Linked DNA regions of Homo sapiens. The protein of the gene in region 1 purifies or fractionates together with the protein of each later gene. This does not show direct contact. Each region holds a gene or a part of one and is shown in the gene's direction. Other genes may lie near its edges. The genes, in order: TNFRSF17, TARBP1, FAM171A1 and OPA3.

Region 1 (7,403 bases):
ATCTCTCCTTGCTTGACTGTTATGGGAGATTTTTTTTTCTTTCTTTTCTTTTTTTTTTTTGAGACACGGTCTCACTCCGTAGCCCAGACTGCAGTGCAGTGGCGCAATCTTGGCTCACTGCAACCTCTGCCTCCCAGGTTCAAACGATCCTCCTGCCTCAGCCTCCCAAGTAGCTGGGATTATGCACGCCACCACGCTTGGCTAATTTTTGTATTTTTAGTAGAGACTGGGTTTCACCATGTTGGCCAGATTGGCCTCAAACTCCTGACTTCAGGTGATCCACCTGCTTCAGCCTCCCAAAGTGCTGGGATTACAGGTGTGAGCCACTGCACCCAGCCTGGGAGATAATTTTTGTTCTCTCCCTATTTCTCTAATCATGTTTGTCCTGTCTCCTTTGCCTGTCTTCCAAAGGTCAGCAATCTGGCAGAGGCTGAGGGAGTGGAGCCTCCTGGGCCAGCTGCTTCAGCTTCTCCCTGTCCTGCCTAGGCAGCCTCTCCCACTTACCTCACCACCTGGACCCCAGAGGAATTTGACGTTTTGATCAATATCTAAGTTCAAAATCTTTCCTAGGCTCAAGTCCTGCATTTAAAAAAAAAAGTATTTTTTTAAATTTCTGCATTTTATTTTCATGATTTTAGCATTTATTATGGACTACTTTAAAAATACAAAAAGAGGCCAGGCGCAGTGGCTCACGCCTATAATCCTAGCACTTTGGGAGGCCGAGGCGGGCGAATCACTTGAGGTCAGGAGTTCGAGACCAGCCTGGCCAACATACTGAAACCCCGTCTCTACTAAAAATACAAAAATTAGCCAGGCCTGGAGGCACGCACCTGTAATCCCAGCTACTAGGGAGGCTGAGGCAAGAGAATGGCTTGAACCTGGGAGACGGAGGTTGCAGTGAGCTGAAATTTTGCCACCACACTCCAGCCTGGGTGACAGAGTGAGACCCTGTTTAAAAAAAAAAAAAAAAAAGGTATGAGCAGTTGTATAATATGCTCTATCTGCCTCCTGGGTGGATACAAATAAAATAGGTAGGGTCTGAATAGACAGACATAAACAGAGGCTCTATTTGGAAAGACAGAAGACTGACAGTGGCTGGGCACTGTGGCTTACACATGTAATCTCAGTACTTTGGGAGGCTGAGGCAGGAAGATCACTTGAGCCCAGGAGTTCAAGACCAGCCTGGGCAACATGATGAAATCTCATCTCTACAAAAAATACAAAAATTAGCTGGGCATGGTGGCATGTGCGTAGTCCTAGCTACTCAGGAGGCTGAGGTGGGAGGATCGCTTAAGCCCAGAAGGTGGAGGCTGCAGTGAGCCCTGATGGTGCCACTGCACTCCAGCCTGGGCAATAGAGCAACACCCTGTCTTAAAAAAAAAAAAAAAAAAAAAGGCTGGGTGCGGTGGCTTGCACCTGTAATCCCAGCACTTTGGGAGGCCGAGGCGGGTCGATCACGAGGTGAGGGGATTGAGACCATTCTGCCCAACATGGTGAAACCCTGTCTCTACTAAAAATACAAATATTAGCTGGGCATGGTGGCGCATGCCTGTAATCCCGGATCATGAGGTCAGGAGATCGAGACCATCCTGGCTAAGATGGTGAAACCCCATCTCTACTAAAAATACAAAAACAAAATTAGCCAGACATGGTGGTGGGTGCCTGTAGTCCCAGCTACTCTGGAGGCTGAGGCAGGAGAATGGCATGAACCTGGGAGTCGGAGCTTGCAGTGAGCTGAGATAGCGCCCCTGCACTCCAGCCTGGGTGACAGAGCAAGATTCTGTCTCAAAAAAAAAAAAAAAAAACCAAAAAAAAAGAGGAAGACTGACAGTAATTACTGCCTCTGGCAAGAGAGAGGAAATCCAGGGTAGGAAAAAGACTTACTTTTCATTGAAAAATCTTTGGCACTGTTTGAATACTTATTTTTTAATAATATGAATTTTAAAAACAAGAATTATCAGTGGCTGGGCGCGGTGGCTCACACCTGTAATCTCAGCACTTTGGGAGGCCAAGGCAGGTGGATCACGAGGTCAGGAGACTGAGACCATTCTGCCCAATATGGTGAAATCCTGTCTGTACTAAAAATACAAATATTTGCTGGGCATGATGGCGCATGCCTGTAATCCCAGCTATTCCGGAAGCTGAGGCAGGAGAATCACTTGAACCCGGGAGGCAGAGGTTGCAGATCGCACTACTGTACCCCAGCCTGGCAACAGAGGGAGACTCCATCTCAAAACAAACAAACAAACAAACAAACAAATAAATAAAAAATCATCCAGGCTAGGTGGCTCATGCCTGTAATCCCAGCAGTTTGAGAGGCCAAGGCCGGTGGGTCACCTGAGGTCAGGAGTTCGAAACCAGCCTGACCAACACGGTGAAACCCCGTCTCTACCAAAAATACAAAAACTAGCCAGGCGTGGTGGCATGCACCTGTCATCCCAGCTACTCAGGAGGCTGAGGCCAGAGAATCGCTTGAACCTGGGAGGTGGAGGTTGCAGTGAGCCGAGATCGCGCCATTGCACTCCAGCCTGGGCAATAACAGTGAAACTCCAGCTCAAAAAAAAAAAAAAAAAGAATAAGTTTTTAAAGGTTGGGGTGCTTGGAGGATGAAATAAAGTAGAAGGGATGGCAGGTTTCCTTGGCACACTCCTTGGGCCTTAAGAAAGTGTAAAGAATAAGAAAAATACAACAAAAGGAAAACAACAAATATCAATGTATCCACCACTCAGCTTAATAAAGAAAATATAATAAACACAGGTGAAGCCTTTTTTGTGCTCCCCTTCTTCCCCACCACTTACCTCAGAGATAATCACTATACTGAATTAGGAGTTTGCCATTTCCTCAAATTTTAATTGAGTCCTGCATTTTTGACAAACATCTGGACGTCTCTATATGGGTATTTCACTCAGTATGGTTAAAAGCAAATTCAAGCTGGGCTTAGTGGCTCACACCTGTAATCCCAGCGCTTTGGGAGGCCGAGGTGGGTGGATCACTTGACCCCAAGTGTTTGAGAGCAACCTGGGCAACACGGCAAAAACCCATCTCTACAAAAAATACAAAACTTACCAGGCGTGCTGGCGCATGTCTGTAGTCCCAGCTACTTGGAAGGCTGAGGTGGGCAGATCACCTGAACCCAGGAGGTGGAGGCTGCAGTGAGCTGTGATTGTGTCACTGCACTCAGCCTGGGAGACAGAGTGAGACTCTGTCAAAAAAAAAAAAAAAGGCAAATTCAAGTGATCCATTTATGTAAACAGAAAAATGCACTATATAAATGTATCTATCTAGAATTCAGGGATCGGTGAAACAAAAGACATCGCATCGGCAGGTCTGTTTGCAACTTCTGGGATACACCAGGTGTTAGCGGTGATGACTTCTGGATGCTTGGACTGTGGATTTTTAAAATGGTTTTATCTGCTCATCTGTATTTCTAAATTTTCAACAATGGAACATAGATTATTGTATTATTATTATAATACCCCAAACCTATCTTCCTCTCAGCCCTCTTTCCACGAGCTCTTACCCTAAATGTCTCTTTTTCTGTCAGTGGCATTGTGCGTCTTCCTTAGTGCATCACCTCTGATCTTCCTGTAGAATTTTTTTTTTTTTTGAGATAGAGTCTTGCTTTGTCACCCAGGCTGGAGCGCAGTGGCCTGATCTTGGCTTACTGCAAACTCCGCCTCCTGGGTTCAAGCACGTCTCCCTGCCTCAGCCTCCTGAGTAGCTGGGATCATAGGTGCCTGCCACCATGCCTGACTAATTTTTGTATTTTTAGTAGAGACGGGGTTTCACCATGTTGGCCAGGCTGTTCTGGAACTCCTGACCTCAAGTGATCCACCTGCCTCGGCCTCCCAAAGTGCTGGGATTACAGGAGAGCGCCACGGCGCCCAGCTTACACCAGACTACTTTTTAAAATGTTTTTGTAAAGTCAGGGTTTCGCCATGTTGCCCAGGCTGATTTTGAACTCCTGGGCTCAAGCAATCCTTTTGCCTTTTGACTCCCAAAGTCCTGGGATTACAGGTGTGAACCCCTGCAGCTGGCCTCAATGTTAAGATCTTAAGGGGCACAGCACAGACCTTGTCTTGTCTATCTCCCTGGCACCTCTCACAGAGTACAGCTTATTAACAGATGTTCCAGAAACTGTTACTGAACATTCGGCTTGATGCTGTGGGCTTGTCTGCATCTTGCAACTGTCACCTGGCTGAGAAATTTCTTCTATAAATAAGCAGTTTCTGTTTCAGATGTGATATGCCCTGATATTTACACCCTGTCTCTTACCCCATCCAAGACTCAAACTTAGAAACTTGAATTAGATGTGGTATTCAAATCCTTAGCTGCCGCGAAGACACAGACAGCCCCCGTAAGAACCCACGAAGCAGGCGAAGTTCATTGTTCTCAACATTCTAGCTGCTCTTGCTGCATTTGCTCTGGAATTCTTGTAGAGATATTACTTGTCCTTCCAGGCTGTTCTTTCTGTAGCTCCCTTGTTTTCTTTTTGTGATCATGTTGCAGATGGCTGGGCAGTGCTCCCAAAATGAATATTTTGACAGTTTGTTGCATGCTTGCATACCTTGTCAACTTCGATGTTCTTCTAATACTCCTCCTCTAACATGTCAGCGTTATTGTAATGCAAGTAAGTAATATTGCTTGAACGATTATTCATTGGTGTGAACTATTCTGTCTATATGGACTGCTTATTCAGAGAATCAACATAATGGGCATGATGGTGAGTTTTCTTGAATCAAAAAGAGAAAGGAAGCAAGGCAGTGATTTTAATGTTTATGGAAACAAAGTAATTATTTGGAACTGAACTTGATATGATTCAGCACTATTAGCAACATAGATTTTTTTTAAAAATCAGCTCTTCTAATTAAGTGATATTTAGAATTTAAAAGTCAATGTTCATTAATTAAGGTGATTGAATGGAAATAATCCATACTTGATTATTTTGCTATCAAAACAATCCATAATTCATTATTTTAGCAAAATAATCAAGTATGACAGCCGGGTGCGGTGGATGGCTCACACCTGTAATCCCAGCACTTTGGGAGGCCGAGGTGGGTGAATCACCTGAGGTCGGCAGTTTGAGGCCAGCCTGGCCAACCTGGTGAAACCCTGTCTCTACTAAAAATACAAAAAATTAGCTGGGCATGGTGGCACAGGTCTGTAATCCCAGCTACTCGGGAGGCTGAGGCAGGAGAATTGTTTGAACTTGGGAGGTGGAGGTTGCAGTGAGCCGAGATCGCGCCACTGCACTCTAGCCTGGGCAACAGAGCAAGACTTTGTCTCAAAATAAATAAATAAATAATAACAATAAAGTATGTGAATATTATGTTATCAGCTCATTATCTGTCTGATGTTCTTTTCATAAAGGTGTGACCAATTCAGTGAAAGGAACGAATGCGATTCTCTGGACCTGTTTGGGACTGAGCTTAATAATTTCTTTGGCAGTTTTCGTGCTAATGTTTTTGCTAAGGAAGATAAACTCTGAACCATTAAAGGACGAGTTTAAAAACACAGGTTGGTTTGATGGTGAATCTTTGAAATCTATTTCCAGGGGATGGCTATTGTGAGTTTCAGTTCCTTTTCTTTTTTTAGCGTTGACTATTTCACTTCGTTACAGCCCTTTCGAATGTGTTAGAACATTGTTACATTAAATGAACTTGGTAGAGGTGAGCCATCTTCATTCTGATTTTGACACCTTGGCAGATTTTCTACAATGTCAGTCTTCTCCAGGATTCTTCCACTGTTAATTACTCTATTGAAAGTACTAAGGCTTTCTTGGGAAACATCAGTCTCTTTGACTAAAGTTAGCACATCGATTAAATGCCACATTATCAGAAACTCCTAGCCAGGTCTGCTACTGTCAGGAAAAGCATATTTGTCAAGATCTATGGTCATGTTTTTATACAAATATAGGTGTTCTTTGCTTGAGTGAACATTTTACTACTGAAAAATGTTAGAAATGAATAACCAGTTGCTCCTGAATTATTTGAGGAATCATCTAAAAAATAATTATTTTTAAGCAATAGAGAACCAGTCCCAGAAAAATGAATGTTCTACTTAAGTGCCTCTTAAGATAAAAATACTTCTGCAGCACCTTTGCTCATGATTGGATTCCCAAGCATGTACAGCCACTGCCCTATTTCTGTATGCATTTATTTATTTATTTATTTATTTATTTATTTATTTATTTAGAGATGGAGTCTCGCTCTGTGGCCCAGGCTGGAGTGCAGTGGCGTGATCTCAACTCACTGCAGCCTCTGCCTCTTGGGTTCAAACAATTCTCCCATCTCAGCCTCCTGAGTAACTGGGACTATAGGTATGTGCCATCACCTCCGACTAATTTTTGTACTTTTTGGTAGAGACAGGGTTTCATCATGTTGGCCAGGATGGTCTCAAGCTCCTGACCACAAGTGATCTGCCCGCCTCAGCTTCCCAAAGTGCTGGGATTACAGGCGTGAGCCACAGGGCCCAGCACATACTCATTCTTTTTTACTGAAAAGATCTGTTTCAAGCTGGGTGTGGTGGCATGGAGCTGTAGTCCCGACTGCTCTGTAGGCTAACGTGGGAGGATTGCTTGAGCCCAGGAGTTTGAATGCAGCCTGGGCAACACAGTAAGACCCCACCTCTAAAAAATGAAAAAATCTCTCTCACATTGCTTTGAGTCCCGATGTGTACTGCTAAGACTCTCATGACCACATTCTCTGTGAAGTTTGGGTTAATGTTTCCGTTTCTACATAATTAGGATCAGGTCTCCTGGGCATGGCTAACATTGACCTGGAAAAGAGCAGGACTGGTGATGAAATTATTCTTCCGAGAGGCCTCGAGTACACGGTGGAAGAATGCACCTGTGAAGACTGCATCAAGAGCAAACCGAAGGTCGACTCTGACCATTGCTTTCCACTCCCAGCTATGGAGGAAGGCGCAACCATTCTTGTCACCACGAAAACGAATGACTATTGCAAGAGCCTGCCAGCTGCTTTGAGTGCTACGGAGATAGAGAAATCAATTTCTGCTAGGTAATTAACCATTTCGACTCGAGCAGTGCCACTTTAAAAATCTTTTGTCAGAATAGATGATGTGTCAGATCTCTTTAGGATGACTGTATTTTTCAGTTGCCGATACAGCTTTTTGTCCTCTAACTGTGGAAACTCTTTATGTTAGATATATTTCTCTAGGTTACTGTTGGGAGCTTAATGGTAGAAACTTCCTTGGTTTCATGATTAAACTCTTTTTTTTCCTGACATCTAAGTTTTTATTAACGTGAGTTTTTAAAAACAAGCATGTATACCAGTGTGGGGGGTGAGGGTGGGAGAGAAAGGTGGGAGGGGGAAAGAATTCTAACCTATTGATAATAAAGCTCCAGTTTTGGCCAGGCGCGGTGGCTCATGCCTGTAATCCCA
Region 2 (7,025 bases), on another chromosome or scaffold:
TTTTAGTAGGTAAGAAAAGCAAAGGAGGATTGCTTATGCGATGACTGTTTACAGTGGTGTCAGACTATGCCGTGTTCACGAACACTTTAATATGTTGTTGTAATCTGATTTTATCCTCGTCTTACAAATGAGGAAGTTGAAGCCAAGAAAGGCTGAATCACTTGCCTAACGTCACATAACTAATTATATTAGTCAAACCAGAATTCAGATTCTAAATTTATCTAATGGGTACGAGAGTAAAAGACTTGTCATGAAAAGAGCTTGAACTTGATTGCCTTTGGAGGTATTTAGTTGTCAGTAAATTGCACTTATCCAAATACTGTCCATCATTAGAACTGATTACTTCTGAAACACTGTTTTTATTAGGCACATACTGGTTTATTACACACAGTTAGAAGTACCAGAGTACAAGTTCTGCCTCCTCTCAGGGGTTTCCTAAATTAATCCCCTAATTTCTGAGAAGATGAGAAATATATATAGACAGTTGCTATAAGATATAAATGAAAGTATATAGTTTGATCAGATGTAATAGTTTGGAGAATATATCATTAATAATTAAGTTGTATTTTAAATGTTATATATTTCTTTGTTATTCTTAAGGGAAGAAATTTAGATTTTATAATTCTCTTTTCAGACCATATTTTACATCCTTCCACGCCTTTCAGGCCTTATTGAAGATGAATGGATCACCATTGATAAATTTACCAGATTCACTGATGTTCCTTTAGCTGCGGGATTTCAGTGGTACCTTTCTCAAACTCAACTTAGTAAACTAAAACCAGGTGACTGGTCTCAGCAAGACATAGGTAAAAAATAATTTTCATTTTATTTTTTCCCCTTGTTGATCTGGTTAGATTTTTTTGATTTAAGTTACTAAGGACAGGTAGTTAATAATAATATCACTTTCATTGACATGGTGACCTCTGCCTTTCCACTTAGGGAAAAGACAGTGAAAAAGTGTGGTATAACTTTGACTAACACTTTTAGTGAAACTTAGCTTTAAAGCTATTTAAAAAAAAAAAAAAAGCCAAAGGAAGCCTGATCTGCTTTATATAAAGCTGATGGCCAGTGGCCTCCCTTTTAAGTAGTATTGTTCGTTAACACTCATTGCTTTTCTACTATATATTTCTGTAAAAATAAACATTTCCAAAAGGACCAAATGATGAAATCTCTTTTTTTGTCCTTCATAGGAATAAAGCAGAGCTCTTGATTCTAGTCCCCTCTTGGTTGGTTGGACGCCGCTTCATGTTATCCCTTCTCCTCTGTCTCATCCTTCCCTGTACAATGACTCCTTTCCACCAGCTTCCTCTGGGACCCACATTCCTCTCCTCCCCCTCCTCCCCCTCCCCTCCCTCCTCCCCTCCCCCTCCCTCCCCCTCTTCCCCCGCCTCCTCCCCCTCCTCCCCCGCCTCCTCCCCCTCCTCCCCCTCTTCCCCCTCCCCCCTCTTCTCCCTCCTCCCTCTCTTCCCCCTCTTCCCCCTCTCCCCCTCCCCCTCTTCCCTCACCTCCTCCCCTCTTCCCCCCTCCTCCCCTCTTCCCCCTCCCCCTCCCCTCTTCCCCCACCTCCTCCCCTCTTCCCCCACCTCCTCCCCTCTTCCTCCTCCTCCCCATCCCCATCCCCCTTCCCCCCTCCCTCTTTCCCCTCCTCCCCATCCCCATCCTTCCCCATCCCCCTTCCCCCTCCCCCTTCCCCCCTCCCCCTCTTCCCCATCCTCCCTCCTTCCCCTCCCCCATCTTCCCCCTCCTCCCCCCTCTTCCCCCTCCTCCCCCCTCTTCCCCCTCCTCCCCATCCCCGTCCTCCCCCTCCGCCTCCTCCCCCTCACCCCTCCTCCCCATCCTCCCCCTCCCCCTCCTCCCTCTCCTCCCACTCCCCTTTCTCCCCTTCCCCCTCCTCTGCCTCCCCTACTCCCTTCTCCCTTCCCTCCCTCTCCACTTTCCCATCCCCTCCCCCTTCCCCCCTCCTCCCCCTCCTCCTCCTCTTCCCCTTCACAGTCAAGCTGTCCTAAAAACCCAAGAATCAGGTTCCCTAACTCAATTTAAAAATGACCGTCTTAATGACTGTAGGCTATCTTCCTATCAGTCTGTCACTCACATTTTAGCCTCATTCTGACTCTCCCCAGCCGATTACCACCTTTGAAACTTCTTTCAGGAAATTAGAAATTTTCTTTCGGTTTCTTTTACACAGTCCGAGTGGAAAATGGACGCTGCCCTCAGATTGCACCTGCCCATTCTGTGCCACATGTTTGCCAGTCTCCGGCCATCCTGCCTTTCCTCCTTACTCTGACCCTTCTCATTCTGAGTCCCCCACATGCCCCTGACATCGGTGCTTCTCCAAACTTTCCATGTCTTCAGGACTCACATGTGACTTGTTGAAAATTCAGATTCCATGTCCCACCCTTAGATTTTTTTTTTCTTTTTTTTTAAAGGCCAATTATGGGTCTGGAACCACCCTTAGTTTAAATTCAGTATCTCTGGAGGAGAGTTCTGGGAAAATGCAATTTTTGTCAGGCCTCTGGATGGTTCACTAATGTGTTTTAAGACATACTATCCTAAATTTATTCATTCAACAAAGATTGATTGATTGTCTCCTGCGTGTTAGACATGAGACCGAGTCCCTGCCTCATAGAGCCCACATTCTTACAGAGGAGACAACAGGGAGCACGTACCTAACACAGTGTCTGGTAGTAGAAGTACCGTGAAAAAACAAAGCAGGGTGAAGAGAGGGACGGAGGGTGAGAAAGACCTTTCTAAGGAGTTGACATTGAGCAGAGACCCCAAGGAAGTATGGGCAAGGCAAGGCAAGGTCTGTCCCGGCGAGAGCTTTACTGGAAAAGGAAGAGCAACTGTGAAGATTCTAGAGCAAAGGACAGTGACAGGAGGCACTTCCCAGTGCGGTTGGGTAGAGCCTGGGAGGAGAGGGAAGAGAGATGGCATTGTAGGCAGCTGTCGAGTTCTGCGTAAAGCGGAGCAGGGAAATACAGTGTTACTGGAATGGCAGAATGGCTAACGAGGTCTGTCTGTTCTGCCTGTTTTTGGTAAAGAGGGGCATGTTGTAATAGACTTTCCATGCTGAGGCTTAAATGTTAGTATCCCCCTAATTTTTTTTCTTTTTTAAAGAAGTTTTACTTCATTTTTAATTGACAAATAATAATTGTACATATTTATGGGGTACAGTGTGGCGTTTTCATGCATATATACATTGTGTAATGGTCAAATCAGGATAATTAGCATATCTGTCACCTCTCACGTTTGTGATGAGAACATGGAAAATCCTCTCTTCTAGCTATTTGGAAGTATACATACATTATTGTTACCTATAGTCATCTTACTGTGTACTAGAACACAAGAGCTTATTCCTGACTGACTAACTTTGTACCTTCTGACCAACCTCTCCTCCTGCCACTGAAGGTTTTCACGGGCCCAGTCTTCTTCTCACTCTTCATCCTCTCCCAGAACACATTTATTAATGTCCCCAACTTGAAACCACCGCCTGTGTAACTATAACTTTCAAATCCTTATCTGCTGCCCAGCCTCTGTCCTGAACAGACTGGACATTAGCACCGGGATATTCCTTAAGCTCTTGAAATATCACCATATCCAAATTCAGTTTGCCTTTCTGCCCAAAAGTGCCTGCTCTGTATGCCCTATTAATGGTATTGGTCAATCATCGTGGAAGTCGTTCTTGTCCTGTTTTTGCTCTTGCCACATCCGTTACCCAGTCTTGGCGATTTCACTTCCCAAAGCTGCCTCCTCCTCCTCTTCTTTAGCCCCTCTTGCCTTGTCTTCATTTAGACTGGCATTGTTTTTACCTGGACTACTACAAAAGCCCCTTAATGGTTTTCTAGCCTCCACATAGCTATTAAAAGAGATTTTTCTAAAACACACAGCAGTACTGTTACTCTCCTTCTTAAAATTTTTTAATGGTTTTTAACTGTGGAATAATTTTTTTTTTTCTTTGAGACGGAGTCTCGCTCTGTCTCTCAGGCTGCAGGCTGGAGTGAAGTGGCACGATCTCAGCTCACTGCAACCTCTGCCTCACGGGTTCAAGCGATTCTCGTGCCTCAGCCTCCCTAGTAGCTGGGATTATAGGCGTCTACCACCATGCCTGGCTAATGTTTGTATTTTTAGTAGAGATGGGGTTTCGCTATGTTGGCCAGGCCGGCCTCAAACTCCTGACCTCAGGTGATCCTCCCGCCTTGGCCTCCTAAAGTGCTGGGATTATAGGCGTCCACCACCACACCTGGCTAATGTGTTATTTTTAGTAGAGTCGGGGTTTCACCATGTTGGCCAGGCTGGTCTCAAACTCCTGACCTCAGGTGATCCTCCCTCAGCCTCCCAAAGTTCTGGGATTACAGGCATGAGCCACCATGCCTGGCCAACAGAATAAATTCTTTATCATTGTATGCAAAGCCCTTTGGTTTGAGCCATCTCCCTCCACTCCATTGCAGGCTGTGCACTAAACCAAGGTACTTGCTGCTGTCTGAACCATGTTGCTTCTACATCCCATGCATGTGCACATGCTGTATCTACTGTCTGCTTTGCAAACTTTTACCTTCCTTCCCGCGAGCCTTCCGGGGTCTTACCCTTTGCTTCTCCCTCCCCTAGACATTAGTAACCCCTTTCTGTGTAAGCATTACCTTCACTGTTGTACTGTGTTACAGTTATTTGCATGTCTGTCCTATCCTAAGTGAACTAAGTGCCACTTGATTGCTCAGAAAGCAGTTTGGAGTAGGACAGAGTTGAGGAAGAGCCTGAGAGGTAGAGTCTCAGTCCTGTACTACAGAGATGAAAACACTGCAGTCAGATAGGCTAGTAACGTTCTGTGTCCTCATCACTTTTGTCAAGAGATAACTGCTTTATACAACATCCTTCATTTTAGAAAAGTTACTCCAGCACTTTTAAAATTATTTTAGATATTTTATTATATTGTTTTCAGAAATAGTCTTTCCATAGAAAATCCCAATCTAATATACTGCTGTTTGTAAGATACATCATTATTTTATGTACTTCCAAGGAAAAAAATGTTACCAAACTATGATACTCTGGATTCTAAGATGTGTCTCAATTTCAGATATGCTAAAACGTGAAAAAACGTGTATCTCATGTTTCCATGAAGTATCATAATATGTTGGTTAATAAAGCTGATTTTGAAAACTTAAAGTTACTACTACAAATGGGAATTGTGTCTGAATCCAACTAAAGTTTTTTACTTAATGCTTTGTTAAGTCTCATTCTAAATTATCTCATTCTAAATTATTTCACATTCTTAAAAATACATATACATGTATACATAAATATATAGAGATTCAGATTTATTTATATGTGGGATTGTTTTCTTTTTCCTTCCCAGGTACTAATTTGGTCGAAGCAGATAACCAAGCGGAGTGGACCGACGTTCAGAAGAAGATTATCCCGTGGAACAGTCGTGTTTCCGACTTAGACCTGGAGCTCCTGTTTCAGGATCGTGCTGCCAGACTTGGAAAGTCAATTAGTAGACTCATCGTTGTGGCCTCGCTCATCGACAAACCGACCAATTTAGGAGGTAAAGTTGGAGTTTTCTGGGAGCTTTGCCTGAAAGCTTTTGGTCTTCAACATTTTTTAATTAATCCACTGCCACGGGAGCTTCAAAGGAATGTATGCGACATGATGAGCTTAGCATTGTGCTGGGAACAATCTTAATGATCCCAGGTGTTCTGTGCAGGACTGTGCAGGACCTGTGAGGTATTTGGGGCTTCAGTGCTCGTTGTTGGCAGCCTTCAGTGTATCAGCGACAAACAGTTTCAGCACCTCAGTGTCTCTGCAGAACAGTGGCTTCCTCTAGTGGAGGTGGGTGGAAAGTAATTTATTATTAAAGTTCTTAAAACAAGCCCGCACATGTACCCGTGAACCTAAAATAAAAGTTTAAAAAAAAGTTTGTATTTGTAAAAATATTTTATAGTGCTCTATCTTTGTGTATTAGTCCTTTTGCATAATTTATAATAGTGCAGTCTTTAATCATTTAAGAACAGTGTTTAAAAATAACATACAGCTCACTTCTGTTTTTCTACTTATTTTTTTATAGGTCACAGTTTTAGAAATCATCAATAATGTAGAATTCTGTTCAGTAAAACATATCCTGTTACAGCCCACTCTTGATGTAGGAATAATTCTTAGAAATTTATATCATGGTGGCTGGGCGCGGTGGCTCACGCCTGTAATCCCAGCACTTTGGGAGGCCGAGGCGGGCGGATCACAAGCTCAGGAGATCGAGACCATCCTGGCTAACACAGTGAAACCCCATCTCTACTAAAAAATAAAAAATAAAAAAAAATTAGCCGGGCGTGGTGGTGGGCGCCTGTAGTCCCAGCTACTTGGGATGCTGAGGCAGGAGAATGGCGTGAACCCGGGAGGCGGAGCTTGCAGTGAGCCAAGATCGCGCCACTGCACTCCAGCCTGGGTGACACAGCAAGACTCCACCTCAAAAAAAAAAAAAAAGAAATTGATGTCATGTTGGGAGAGTTCTTTTTTATAATGTATAATTCTCTCCTTTTTCTTTTAAAGAGTTAAGTTTAGGTTAATACGTTTTTTAACTCTAATTTACTCCAAGCAGGGCTATAACTGAATGAATATTCTGTTCTTTTTAAACTAATATTCAGGTAAAACCACCTCAGCTAATTGATTATCTGCAGCAGAAGAAAACAGAAGGTTATACCATCATTGGAGTGGAACAAACTGCCAAAAGTTTAGACCTAACCCAATATTGCTTTCCTGAGAAATCTCTGCTCTTGTTGGGGTAAGAAGCTTCTTGTGTCCATAGTATATTCTCTGAGCCCCAGACTACTGGAAGATGTTACCTTGTTTTTTTTTGTTTTTGAGACGGAGTCTCACTCTGTAGCCCAGGCTGGAGTGTAGTGGCACAATCTCGGCTCACTACAACCTCTGCCTCATTGGCTCAAGCAATTTTCAGGCATCAGCTTCCCAAGTAGCTGGGATTACAGGCATGCTCCACGAGACCCAGGGTTTCACCATGTTGGCTAGGCTGGTCT
Region 3 (7,025 bases), on another chromosome or scaffold:
AATTTAATTGAGAAGGCAAAGGAACACTAAAGTTGCTTATCTTTCCCTGAAAGGAAATTGAAAAGAATTTCTCCAGAAAGCTGCCTGGGGTCCCTAGATGACACTTTGGCCATCTTGGTTATCTTATAGGTCATAAACATGACATTTAAGATATTTAAGATGACTTTTACAATATGCTCAAGCCTTACAAAGGAGCGTGGTGTGCTTGTAGCTAACATCTCTTTCTCAATTCCACAGGAACGTGGCTGAAGAGCGGTCTGGGTCTTGTGCACCAGGAAGGCAGCCAGCTGACGTGGACATACATTGCCCCCCAGTTGGGGTACTGGGTGGCCGCCATGTCCCCTCCCATCCCAGGTAACACGGAGCCAACACTTGCGATGATGCGGATCAGTTGCTTTGGTCTTTGAGGGTTCAGGCTAAGTATGCTCTTGAAAATAACTTCAGCAGGGCGATCACATCTTATTCAAAAATGGTTAAAAGTCTGAAAATGAGATGATGTAAAGAAGGTATTTTGCGGGGGTGGGGGACTTCTGGTTGGAAATCTTCCATCTAGGGTAAGAATAATGCATAGAAAATAGTCTTGAGTGGCTGTTTTGTTCAGACAGCTGCCATAGGGAATTCTTCATCAAAAGCCCACAGAGACCAGCAAGACCTCCTCCCTAATTCCTGAAACAGCTGTGGCCTGGTATAGGCACACATGTAGGGAAAAGCACTCCACAGAGATGCTAGTGGGAAGTCACCACTGGGGGCAAAAAGCCTGGTGGGGCATTTCCAAAATGGCTTAAACGTAAACCAGTTGCTTTGTATCTACGAGAATCTTCCCCTCCATTTAGGATATGTGCATTAATGCATATCTTTCAGAACGTGACCAATAGTTTATTTTTTTTAACCTATGTTACCCCCAAAAATATTCTAGAATTGTTGAGTTTTGTTTTGTTTTGTTTTGTTTTCAAAATGGTCATCTCAGGAGAATTATTTCCAGTGATAGCTTCTGTTGCTCAAGCTGCCTTTAGAATCTATATTACTTGGACTGCCTTCTGCCTTCATTAGTAAATCTCTTTCTTGGTGGCAAATCTTTATGCTCAAATGGCAAATCTTTATGATTTTTCTTTTTAAAGACATCTAAAAGTCATGCACATTCAAGACTGGTGAATAAAGTAGGTGACTTAGCTAGGTCGAAATGTGCTGTGATTAAAAGGTGTCTCTTGTAAATGAACCATGAAGGCAGTTCTAAAATGCAAGTTCAAATATTTTAGCAATGGAATTATCACTGGAATTAGCACTTAGACTCACAAAGTAACTGATTTGATGGAGGTCTTTCCTAAACAGGTGTGGAAAAATGTGTTACAATGACTTTATATCACCATACTAAGAAAATTTACACTTCACATCTGTTTTAAGAGTAATGTGTTTCCCTTAGCCGGGCGCGGTGGCTCACGCCTGTAATCCCAGCACTTTGGGAAGCCGAGGAGGGCGGATCACGAGGTCAGGAGATCAAGACCATCCTGGCTAACATGGTGAAACCCCGTCTCTACTCAAAATACAAAAATTAGCTGGGCGTGGTGGCACACGCCTGTAGTCCCAGCTACTTGGGAGGCTGAGGCAGGAGAATCGCTTGAACCCAGGAGGCAGAGGTTGCAGTGAGCCGAGATTGTGCCACTGCACTCCAGCCTGGGCGACAGAGCGAGACACCCTCTCAAAAAAAGAAAAAAAAGATTAATGTGTTTCCCTTGATGCTATTGTTTTTGTAGTGATATAAGCATGAACCACACGTAGAAATGCCCCATTCTCTGAATCTGAAATACCTAGATTATGACTGAAGAGAAACAAAGGAAGGAAAAGAATTGTCTTAAGCACTAAAATAAATGCCATAAAGCCCACGCATTAAAATGAACTTTAATTTTAGATGTATTTCAATCTCAGCTATTAGTTTTCCCATCATGCAGTAGATCAGTACATGCTTTTTGTGTGTGTGTGTTTTGGTTTTGTTGTTGTTGTTGTTCGTTTGTTTTTTTGAGACAGAGTTTTGTTCTTGTTGCCCAGGCTGGAGTACCATGGCATGATCTCAGCTCATGGCCACCTCCGCCTCCTGGGTTCAAGCAATTATCCTGCCTCAGACTCCAGAGTAGCTGAGATTACAGGTCTCCGCCGCCACACCTGGCTAATTTTTGTATTTTAGTGGAGACAGGGTTTCACCATGTTAGTCAGGCTGGTCTTGAACTTCTGACCTCCGGTGATCCCCCCGCCTCAGCCTCCCAAAGTGCTGAAATTACAGGCATGAGCCACTGCGCCTGTCCAGTATATGCTTTTGTAAGGCAGCATGAAGGAACTGCCAGACGTAGCTCCCCTGAGAGCTTCCTAGCAGTGAAGGAAGAGACTCAAGGCTATAAAAAGCATACACAGGCCAGGGCATGGTAGCTCACACCTGTAATCCCAGCACTTTGGGAGGCAAGGCAGGATGATCTCTTGAGCCCAGGAGTTCAAGACCAGCCTGGGCAACACAGCAAGACCCCACTTCTAAAAAAATTTTTTTTAATTAGCCAGTGATGGTAGCATTCACCTGTAATCCCGGTTACTTGAGAGGTTGAGGCAGGAGGATCCCGTGAGCTCAGGAGTTCAAGGCTGCAGTGAGCTATGATCATGTCACTGCACTCCAGCGTAGGTGACAGAGTGAGACCCCATCTCAAAAATAACACAAAGCATACCCACTACAGCCTCTGATGGTATTTAATGTAGGGATACATATGTCAGTCATCTCACAACCCACCTTTATTACAAAAAATTATACTAATATTGGGCTTTCATGAACTCAAAAGCAACAACAAAATAATTTGGGTTATGTTCCTTAACTCCTTGAAGTGAAGTATAGCTGTGAATTTTATAAAGAATCGTACTGGCAGAGATTAAAACAATAATGCTGGCCAGGCACGGTGGTTCATGCCTGTAATCCCAGGACTTTGGGAGGCCAAAGTGGGCGAATCATGAGGTCAGGAGATCAAGACCATCCTGGCTAACACGTTGAAACCCTGTCTCTACTAAAAATACAAAAAATTTGCCAGGCACAGTAGCACACACCTGTAGTCCCAGGTACTCAGGAGGCTGAGGCAGGAGAATTATCCGAACCTGGGAGGCAGAGGTTGCAGTGAGCCCAGATCGTGCCACTGCACTCCAGCCTGAATGATAGAGTGAGACTCCATCTCAAAACAAAACAAAACAAAACAATAATGCTTTGAGTACTTAAAGGACGAAGCATCAGTATTTGGAAATACTTTTATGTGTACCCTAAGTTTCTTGGTGACTCCTGACAAAGCTTTGCTACATCCGTGGGAATTGTCTATTGTCTTTGCATGAAAAAATTGTTTCTCTGGGCCGGGTGCGGTGGCTCATGCCTGTAATCCCAGCACTTTAGGAGGACGAGGCAGGTGGATGATGAGGTCAGGAGTTCAAGACCAGCCTGGCCAAGATGGTGAAACCCCATCTCTACTTAAAAAAATTAGCCAGGCATGGTGGCGGGCGCCTATAATCCCAGCTACTCAGGAGGCTGAGGCAGGAGAATCACTTAAACCCAGGAGGCAGAGGTTACAATGAGCTGAGATCACACCACTGCACTCTAGCCTGGGTGACAGAGCAAAGACTCCGTCTCAAAAAAAAAAAAAAATTGTTTCTCTGAACAAGTAAGCCAGTATCTAATTGTCAGTTATTTTTCCAATTTTTGTAAACTTTAACCCCCTCCTCGCACTCCATTGAAGTAATTATATCTGAAAGAGAATGGTGTTTCTTGTGAATTTAAGTAACATCACTGTTTTCAAAAACTGGTAAATCTTGGGTTTATCTAGGTCTTAAATTAGGAGATTTGTCCCCTTAAGAAGATTTTTTAAAAAGTCTATGTCTTAGAATGTCAAAAATCAAAAATAAGCAAATGGGTGTCTGTGGTGTTTAATAATCATAGCCATGCTACCCTGAAATAATATGAGGCCAGTTCATTTCGACCCATGTATTCATACACTGCCAGGAAACTCGGACACCAATAAATACCTAAATATTGGAATGTTGGGAGGTTTTTGTTGTCGCTGATCTGTTGTTAGTAACATTAAGATAGATTTGTACTACTACGGAACATAAAATGTGAGTTAAGCTACCTCTTGGGATTTTTTACAACATAAACTTAAAATATTTTTATCTTTGATAACCTTATGTATAAGTTCTAAAGAGATCTCTGGCCACGTAAGGTTAGCTATTTTGAAAAGCCATTGTAGAGAAAGATCTTGTTTTTAAAGATGGATATCATTTTAGTCATATTTGATACCTGTATTAAGTGTTAAAAGTTGCTGACTTTTTTAAGTCACAGGAAATGTATGTCATACATTTAAACTGATTCATTTGGGCTAGGGGCTCTCCAGACGGTAATGATTGACTGCCCGGGAAAAGCGAAAATAAAACTTTGTAGGGTTTTTTTTTTTTTTTTCACTGCAATATAAAATTCCCAGATAGGCCATCTTTCTGAAGGTGAGAGTCCCAGTCATTATATCGTCATGCGTTCATTTTCTTGTATGAAAAGATCATATGGCTGGGCACAGTGGCTCATGCCTATAATCCCAGCACTTTGGTAGGCCGAGGCAGTGGATTGCTCGAACTCAGGAGTTCAAGACCCACCTAGGCAACATAGTGAGAACATTGCCTCTAAAAAAAATTTATAAAAATTAGCCAGGTGTGGTGGTGCGTGCCTGTAGTCCCAGCTATGCTGGAGGCTGAGGCAGGAGGATTGATGCAGCCCAGGAGGTCAAGGCTACAGTAAGCCATGATTGTATCACTGCGCTCCAGCCTGGGTGACAGAATGAGACCCTGTCTCAAAAAAAAAAAAAATTAAAAAGATCATGTATTTCAAATGCGGCACATGCTACCAAGTGAGGCGCACTTCTCCGCTTAGGAGGGGCCCTTGACGTAACCACATCTTGTCTTTGAGTATTCAAAGTTCTCCTGGCTGTGGGAGCTTCCATAATAGTCATGCTAATCACTAATGCAATGCTGGTGGTACCCCAAGTGCATGATCCAAGGGCGTTTTCCTCTGGCCACTGCTCTATGCCCCAGCTAAGAAGAGTAAGCACAAGACACTGCGTTCTCAATGAATGATCCCTCTTTTGAGTTAAAGGTGTTCAAAACTCTAAATGCCATTTTCTGACCTTCTAGGTCCCGTTGTAACACAGGACATTACCACGTATCACACGGTGTTTCTTTTGGCCATTTTAGGAGGAATGGCTTTCATACTTTTGGTTTTGCTGTGTCTCCTTTTATATTATTGCAGGTAAAGTGTTACCATTTTGGCAATATCTTTTTTAATTCACAGTTTCTTGGGCAATTGATACTTAGAAGCATTAATATGGAGGTGGGTTTTTTTTTTAATTTTTCTAAATTGAAGTACTTTTTCTTCCCATGAAAAAGTAAGAACTCACATTTGTGATCTAAGTTGCAACTTAACAAATAGTATGTGTAAAGCATGCTGCGTGGATAACATTGCTTAGAAGGGGAGTTATGAAAAAGAGTTTAACAATAGTCATCTGATTTATTCAGAGTATTCCTGAACGCTGATTAAGAGATGATACTCTGAAGGGCAAAGCAGAACTCTTCTTATTTGGGCCAGGGACGTTGGCTCACACCTGTAATCCCAGCACTTTAGGAGGCCGAGGTGGGCGGATCACTTGAGGTCAGAAGTTCGAGACCAGCCTAGCCAACGTGGTGAAACTCCGTTTCTACCAAAAATACAAAAATTAGCTGGGCATGGTGGCACACGCCTATAATCCCAGCTACTTGGGAGGCTGAGGCAGGAGAATTGCTTGGACCCAGAAGGTGGAGGTTGCAGTGAGCCAAGATTGCACCACTGTACTCCAGCCTGGGCAACAGAGCAAGACTCCATCTCAAAAAAAAAAATTATTCTTATTTAGATGCCGTGTCTGTTTAGTTTGCAAGAATATTTATTGTCAACTCTTGAGTAACCCCTTTGAAATAAGTAACTTGGCTTATAAAAGCCTTTAAGTTTAGCTGTTTTAAAAAGGCATTATAGAGGAAAAATTTTATTTTTAAAAATGCAAAGCATTTTAGTCACGTTTGAGACTCTTTAATAAGTTGTTGACTTTTTTAAGTCATAGAAAAATGAATGTCATACATTTAATTCATTTAGGCAAAGGGCTCTCCAGACAGTAAAAGATGAAATCTCTCGATTATCCTACTCTAATAAGGATAAAATAAGGATAAGGGCCAGGCATGGAGGCCTAGCACTTTGGGAGGCTGAAGGGGGAGGATTGCTTGAGGCCAGGAGTTTAAGACCAGCCTGGGCAACACAGGCCATCTCTACAAAAAAACTAAAAGTCAAAAATTAGCTGGGCATGGTGGCATGTGCCTGCGGTGCCAGCTGCTCGGGAGGCTGAGGTGGGAGGATCACTTGAGCCCATGAGGTCAAGCCTGCAGTGAGCTATGATCATAGCACTGCACTCCAACGTGGGCGACAGAGCAAGCAAGATGCTGTCTCAAAAAAAAAAAAAAAAGACAGGGCGTGGGGTGAGAAGGCTTTTGGCTGCTCCTGACTTGTTTTGTTTTGTCTCTCCCCATGGAAATTGAGAATTAGGATTTTACCTGAAACTTGAAACTTTTTCATTGTGAGAATCACTAATCTTTGGCTTTGGATTGTGTCTTTGGGCGCAGGAGGAAGTGCTTGAAACCTCGTCAGCACCACAGAAAACTGCAGCTCCCTGCAGGACTGGAGAGTTCCAAAAGAGACCAGTCCACGTCCATGTCACACATTAACTTGCTGTTTTCACGCCGAGCGTCAGAATTCCCTGGCCCGCTGTCCGTCACCAGCCACGGCCGCCCCGAGGCCCCCGGCACGAAGGAACTGATGAGTGGAGTCCATTTGGAAATGATGTCTCCGGGCGGCGAAGGGGACCTGCACACCCCCATGCTCAAGCTCTCCTACAGCACCTCCCAGGAATTTAGCTCCCGGGAGGAGCTCCTCTCTTGCAAGGAAGAGGATA
Region 4 (7,025 bases), on another chromosome or scaffold:
GGGCGAAGCCACCATCTTCATCGTGGGCGGCGGCTGCCTAGTGCTGGAGTACTGGCGCCACCAGGCGCAGCAGCGCCACAAGGAGGAGGAGCAGCGTGCTGCCTGGAACGCGCTGCGGGACGAGGTGGGCCACCTGGCGCTGGCGCTGGAAGCGCTGCAGGCGCAGGTGCAGGCGGCGCCGCCACAGGGCGCCCTGGAGGAACTGCGCACAGAGCTGCAAGAGGTGCGCGCCCAGCTCTGCAATCCCGGCCGGTCCGCTTCCCACGCAGTGCCTGCGTCCAAGAAATAGGAGCTTGCTGGATGGAACCTGAATTTGGACATGGCCTATGTACCTAACGTGGCCTTCTTCCCGCACCACCCTTGCCTGCGCTGGCCCAGTGGAAACCACCAGGATCTTGATGCAACTTGGCATTTGGTTACCCCTGCTGATAAGAGCAGCCGTTACCTGCCACTGGGACCAGCAGGTGAAGCGTTGCAACATAGCCCCCTCCATCATCCTTCACCTCCTATCCCCCACTCCAAACCAGGACGACCTGCAAGGTCCCAGCCAGCAGGACACCGTGGGCACTCTGGCAAATGAAAAAATGGAACCTGGTCTTGAGCTGAATCAATGTGTTATTGTTACCCCCACCCCCGGTTTACCTGATCAGTGTTAACCTTTACTGGGACACTCATCTGTTACACTGGAACACCTTCTTCTTTTTGTCAATCGGCACAGACCACTGTAAGGAAATGCAGTGTGTTGCAGTGGCCTTTTCTCCCCCTCACCTTCTAAGGTCAGCTCTAGCTGAGCATCAGTGCTCTCTTAAGGAGGAAAAAAACGGTGCGGCTGGGAGCGGTGGCTCACGCCTGTAATCCTAGCACCTTGGGAGGCCGAGGCGGGCGGATCACTTGAGGTCAGGAGTTCCAGACCAGCCTGGCCAACATGGTGAAACTCCGTCTCTACTAAAAATACAAAAATTAGCCGGGTGTGGTGGGGTGCGCTTGTAATCCCAGCTACTCGGGAGGCTGAGGCAGGAGAATTGCTTGAACCCATGAGGTGGAGGTTGCGGTGAGCCAAGATGGCACCATTGCACCCTAGCCTGGGCAACAGAGCAAGACACCGTCTTAAAACCAAAAGTTAACCGGGCGTGGTGGTGGGTGCCTGTAATCCTAGCTACTTGGGAGGCTGAGGCAGGAGAATTGCTTGAACTTGGGAGGTGGAGGCCAAGATTGTACCACTGTATTCCAGCCCGGGTGACAGAGCAAGACTGTGTCTCAAAAAAAAAAAAAAAATCCTGGCTGGGCACGGTGGCTCACACCTGCAATCCCAGCACTTTGGAAGGTCGAGGTGGGCGGGTCATTTGAAGTCGGGAGGTCGGGAGATCGGGAGCTCGAGACCAGCCTGACCAATATGATGAAACCCCGTCTCTACTAAAAATACATAAATTAGCTGGGCATGGTGGCATGCACCTGTAATCCCAGCTACTTGGGAGGCTGAGACAGGAGAATTGCTTGAACCCGGGAGGCAGAGGTTGCAGTGAGCCGAGATTGCGCAATTGCATGCCAGCCTGGGTAACGAGCAAAACTCCATCTTAAAAAAACCCACAAAAGGTCCTGGCCTGCAGTCAATCCCTGGAATCATTGTACCTTCCCTTGAGACCCGAAGTGGACTATTCCAACAGAACCCCCTCATCCTTGAGTCTATGGCACAACCCACTGGAATGGCACTACAGGATCTTTTCTGTGAATGTCCTCCAACCCCCCTTTCCGTGGTGGGAAATTTGATCCTAACTAGGGCTAATCCAGCCTGTCCTTCAGCCTCAGCCCCCTATTTTCCTGTCCTCAGAGTCCCTGGAGCTTGTACTGTGTGGCATGTCCTTTCTTGCCTTCCCCACCTTGCTCAGTAGCATTTCTCAGGGACCCAGTCGAATCCAAGCCCATGGATTCAATTGTCACATCCTTCATCTTCCATCCGTGTCTCCTAATCTGTGTGCTCTTGCTTTCTTTCCTCGGAGCTCTGGACTGACCCGACAGCCTGTCTTCATGTAGCAGTACCCTCCTGCCTCCATAGCCCCCGGTCCCACCCCCATCCTACCAATTAGGCCAGCAGTTGGCCTTAACTGCTTGATTAATTTCCTTGGACTGCCATAACAGATCACCATTGGGTGGTGAACTTGATGGCTTAAGTCCAACAGGAATTTAATTCACACAGTTCTGGAGTCCAGAAGTCTGAAACCAAGGTGCTGACAGGGACACGCTCCCTCTTCCAGCTCCTGGTGATTCCAGGCCTTCCTTGGCTCTGCCTGCAGCTTCACATGGCCTTTTCCCTCTTCTATTTTGTCTCTTACAAGAACACCTGTCATTGCATTTAGGGCCCATCTTAAGTTCAGGATGATCCCACCTCAAGACCCTTAATTACATCTGAAAAAACACTTTTTCCAAATAAACTGTCATAAGCACAGGTCCTGGGGGTTAGTATGTGGACTTGTCTGTTGGGGGCACACCATTCAAGCCATTCAGCCCACTATTCCTCCTCACCCCAAGAGTACGCTGGCGTCCAGGTGCAGTGGCTCACACCTGTAATCCCAGCACTTTGGGAGACCAGGGCAGGAGGGATCTCTTTGAGCCCAGGAGCTGAAGACCAGCCTGGGCAACATAGTGAGACCCCATCTCTACAAAAGTAAAATAAAAAATTAGCCAGGTGCGGTGATGCATGCCTGTAGTCCCAGCTACTTGGGAGGCTGAGGCAGGAGGATCACCTGAGCCCTGGAGGTCGAGGCTGCAGCGAGCCGTGATCGCGCCACTACACTCCAGCCTGGATGACAGAGTGAGACCCTTTCTCAGAAAAAAAGTACCCTGGGACTCCTGCCAACCCCGCGGGCCATTTGGCCTTCCTGCTAGCTGAGAGGAACAGTCTAGGAACCACCCTTTTCTACTGGGTTTCTCTTCCAGGATCTGCCACTGAAGCGGGAGGGGGTGGGTCCCAGTAGCCTGCAGTCTGTCCTTCCGACTGTAGCTCTCTCATTAGAGGAGCTGCAAGGTGATGAAGGCATCCTGAGGCTGTACCTGAACCACCATGTGGATCTCCACAATGGGTACAGAGCTTATTAAAATCAGGAGGGAAACTGGGAGGGTTCTGATGGGGAGAGGCCCAAGAGTCACCCTATGAGCTGGGGAAACTAAGGCCAGGGGTAAGCAAAGGGACTTGCCAGAGATGCCACAGCCAGTGAGGGGCTGACTGCCCAGGGTGGTGAAGTAGTAGGGGCAGAGTGAGAGGCTTGGATTACCCCAGCTGCAGAGTGAGGAGGGAGAGGCGATGGCTGAGCAGAGGCTGGGAGGGTGACGATCTCTACACAGAGGCCCAGACCATCCCAGAGGTGGCGTTGATAGTGGGAGACCCTCTCTATCCCCTCTCAGAGCAGCCCCAGATCACACCAGAGATCATAGCATTGTGTAAACTGGGTGACCATTCCACCTGGGCCCGCTTTTGGGAAGCTGCAGGTGAAAGTGGGAGGGCCGGGCTTTCCCCGACTTCCATCCTCACCTCCCTTCTCTAAAGAGGTAAAACTGGCCTGGACCAAGATCTGCCCAGATAGAAAGCCAAGAAACAGGTTCTGAAACTTTTCTTTTCTTCTTTTCTCTTCTTTTTTCTTTTCTTTTCTTTCGGAGACAGTCTAGCTCCGTCACCCTGACGGAGTGCAGTGGTGCAATCTCGGCTCACTGCAACTTCTACCTCCCAGGCTCAACCAATGATCCTGCCTCAGCTTCCGAAGTAGCTGGGATTACATGTGCCCACCACCCACGCCTGGCTAATTTTTGTATTTTAGTGGAGACGGGGTTTCTCCAAGTTGCCCAGGCTGATCTTGAACTCCTGACCTCAGGTAATCCGCCCGCCTCGGCCTCCCAAAGTGCTGGGATTACAGGCGTGAGCCACCGCGCCTGGCCTGAAACAGCATTTCAGTTCCTTCTGGAAGAGGGGGAGAAGCTGGAGCAGAGGGAACTGACCGAGTGGGTCCTGAGTGGGCTGTGTTTAAAACTGGGAGTGACCCAGGCCAGCTCACGCCTGTCATCCCAGCACTTTGAGAGGCCAAGGTGGACTGATCACATGATGTTAGGAGATCGAGACCAGCCTGGCCAACATGGCAAAACCCCGTCTCTACTAAAAATACAAAAATTAGCCGGGCATGTTGGCACATTCCTGAATCCCAGCTACTCGGGAGGCTGAGGCACGAGAATTGCTTGAACCCAGGAGGTGGAGGTTGCAGTGAGCTGAGATCGCGCCACTGCACTCCAGCCTGGGTGACAGAGTGAGACTCAACTCAAAAAAAAAAAACAGAGGTGGGAGTGTGAACACAGGCAGGAGCTCCAATTCCTGACCCCAGCGCTGTCCTGACCCAGATGGAGTGCTGCTCTCACATCTCAGAGACTTCGCACTCAGCCCTGCCCTGCCCTGCCCTGACAGGCAGCCAGTCATCGTGGGCAGCAGGGCCATCTACTTCCCCCACTGCGGCGTCAGGGGTGGCCAGAGTGTGTGGAAGTGGAAAGAACGTCCTCTCAAAATGCAAGAGGCCAGAGGATGGTTCACTGCTCGTGTGTTCTGCTAGCTAGAATTCTGTGTACCTTGTAATTTGGGGAGAGGGGTTAGAATAAATTTGTAAATGAAGCTGATTATCTTCAAGTTGATGCATTCTTTTTTCATATTTAAAAAGTCCTTGGGACTGGGCGCAGTGGCTCACACCTGTAATCCTAGCACTTTGGGAGGCCAGGGTGGGTGGATCACCTGAGGTCAGGAGTTCAAGACCAACCTGATCAACATGGTGAAACCTCGTCTCTACTAAAAATACAAAAATTAGCTGGGCATGGTGGTTGTGCACCTGTAATCCCACCTACTCGGGAGGCTGAGGCAGGAGAATCTCTTGGACCCGGGAGGCGGAGGTTGCAGTGAGCCGAGATCATGCCATTATACTCCAGCCTGGGTGACAGAGCGAGACTTCATCTCTAAATAAATAAATAAATAAATAAATAAATAAGGTCCATGTCAACCTTAGGAAAAATATCCTTTATTTATTCTTTCACTCAAAAAACTCACTGAGGTGGTCCCGCACCGGGACATGGACCCAGTGTCCTTGGTAGGGCGTCTCCCGCAAAAAAAAAAAAAATAAAAAAAATAAAACACAAAACTCACTGAGTTACCCACTCTCTGCCCCACCCTATGCTGGGGTCACAGTGGTGACAGAGACAGCCCCAGCCCTGCCGTCACCGGGTCTTACAGATGCTCACACGTACATTTCTTTTCCAGTGTTCCCTGCCCCACCCCATAGTTGTTTAGGAAGCAGGGGCTGGGCTGAATCCGGAATCCTCCCTCTGGAGTGACTCAGGACTATAAACCCATTCATCCCAGCTCACAAAACCCTGGGAGGTGCCCTGAGGGCTGTGCCCCTCCCATCTCCTGGCAGGCCCTGCTGTCCCTCTTGTTGGTTTCTCTGTAGGGCAGGCCATTGCCTGGAGGGAGGCAAAATGGCTGAGAGCCACCCCAGGAGAAAATGGGCTTTACATAAGCCCCAACCTGATCTATTGGCTCACGGAGCTACTCCTGGGCTGGTCGCTGTGTTGCTGAGTGGCAGGCTTGGGTCCCCCAGTGGCAATGGCTTGTAGCTGGAGTCGGTGTGGACAGAGAGAGGAGAAGCATGGCAACTCTGAGTGTACTGAGGATCAACTGCACCAGGCTCCATTCTAGTAGCTGGGAGCCAGTTGGGAGCAAGCAGAGGCCCTCACTGGAGCTGACATTCTAGTGCCAGAGACCGGCAATAAAGAAGGAAAGAGTGGCCAGGCGTGGTGGCTCACACCTGTAATCTCAGCACTTTGGGAGGCCGAGGCGGGCCAATCCCCTGAGGTCGGGAGTTCGAGACCAGCCTGACCGACATGGAGAAACCCCATCTCTACTAAAAATACAAAATTAGCAGGGCATGGTGGTGCATGCCTGTAATCCCAGCCACTCAGGAGGCTGTGGCAGGAGAATCGCTTGAACCCGGGAGGCGGAGGTTGCGGTGAGCCAATATTGCACCATTGCACTCCAGCCTGGGCAACAAGAACGAGACTCCATCTCAAAAAAAAAAGGAAAAAGCTAATCCAGCATAGGGTGATGAGGACTGAGAGGAATGGAGGCAGGGTAGGAGTTCCGGACTTACGGGCACCGCTGATCTAGACAGGTGGGCAGGGAGGAGGCAGCGCTTCAGATGGAGGGAGATAGGAAGAGGGCTGTGAGTATCTGTGAAAGTCCTAGGACAGATGTGGCCTTGGCCTGTTCCTGGAACAGCAAGAGTTTCTGGCTGTCAGAATAGAGCAGAGGCTCGCTGACCAAGGCCTTTGGGCCAAATCAAGGGGACCCTTGCTTCCTGTCTTTGTAAATAAAGACTTATTGGAACCCAGGCGCTCATTCGTTTGCATATTTTCCACAGTTGCTTTTGCAGTACAGTGACAGAGCTGAGTATTTGCACAGAGATCCTAGGGCTCTCGTACTCTCTGGCCCTTTACAGAAAAAGTTTACCATCCCCTGGAATAGAGTAAGCGAGGGGAGAAGTTAGGTGAGGGGGCCAGGCAAGCAAAGGCTGCCCCTTGCCTTGATTGGCACAACTGTGGAGGTCATCCCAGCTCTGGAGCCCCAACAGGATCACTCAGGCCTCTGCTTCCACCACATCTGGCTTCAGCTTCCCCCTCTGTGGAGTCCTCCCTCCCTCCCTCCTTCCCCATAGGAAATGACCCCAGTGCTCAGCAGTAACCCCCACTGCGCGCAGATCTCAGAACCTCCACCTCAATCTACAGCCACGTGCCACAATAAGAAGCAGAGTTTTAGGCCAGGCGCGGTGGCTCACGCCTGTAATCTCAGTACTTTGGAAGACCAAGGTGGGAGGATCACTTGAAGTCAGGAGTTCGAGACCAGCCTGCCCAACATGGTGAAGCCCCGTCTCTAATAAAAAGAATACAAAAATTAGCCGGGTGTGGTGGTGCACATCTGTAATCCCAGCTACATGAGAGGCTGACAT

The links.
Region 2: the proteins of TNFRSF17 (region 1) and TARBP1 purify together in Homo sapiens (affinity purification with mass spectrometry; 2 studies listed by BioGRID and IntAct, with this or other methods). This does not show direct contact.
Region 3: the proteins of TNFRSF17 (region 1) and FAM171A1 purify together in Homo sapiens (affinity purification with mass spectrometry; 2 studies listed by BioGRID and IntAct, with this or other methods). This does not show direct contact.
Region 4: the proteins of TNFRSF17 (region 1) and OPA3 purify together in Homo sapiens (affinity purification with mass spectrometry; 2 studies listed by BioGRID and IntAct, with this or other methods). This does not show direct contact.

The regions. Positions count from the first base shown.
Region 1 is NC_000016.10:11,960,825-11,968,227, forward strand, and holds TNFRSF17 (tumor necrosis factor receptor superfamily member 17), read left to right. Parts: upstream 1-4,385; 5' UTR 4,386-4,500; coding exon 4,501-4,630; intron 4,631-5,370; coding exon 5,371-5,517; intron 5,518-6,745; coding exon 6,746-7,023; 3' UTR 7,024-7,244; downstream 7,245-7,403. UniProt on the Homo sapiens protein: Receptor for TNFSF13B/BLyS/BAFF and TNFSF13/APRIL. Promotes B-cell survival and plays a role in the regulation of humoral immunity. Activates NF-kappa-B and JNK.
Region 2 is NC_000001.11:234,392,163-234,399,187, reverse strand, and holds part of TARBP1 (tRNA (guanosine(18)-2'-O)-methyltransferase TARBP1), read left to right. Parts: intron 1-634; coding exon 635-806; intron 807-5,350; coding exon 5,351-5,542; intron 5,543-5,701; coding exon 5,702-5,826; intron 5,827-6,635; coding exon 6,636-6,772; intron 6,773-7,025.
Region 3 is NC_000010.11:15,214,273-15,221,297, reverse strand, and holds part of FAM171A1 (protein FAM171A1 precursor), read left to right. Parts: intron 1-237; coding exon 238-354; intron 355-5,187; coding exon 5,188-5,302; intron 5,303-6,696; coding exon 6,697-7,025. UniProt on the Homo sapiens protein: Involved in the regulation of the cytoskeletal dynamics, plays a role in actin stress fiber formation.
Region 4 is NC_000019.10:45,546,778-45,553,802, reverse strand, and holds part of OPA3 (optic atrophy 3 protein), read left to right. Parts: coding exon 1-289; 3' UTR 290-7,025. UniProt on the Homo sapiens protein: May play some role in mitochondrial processes.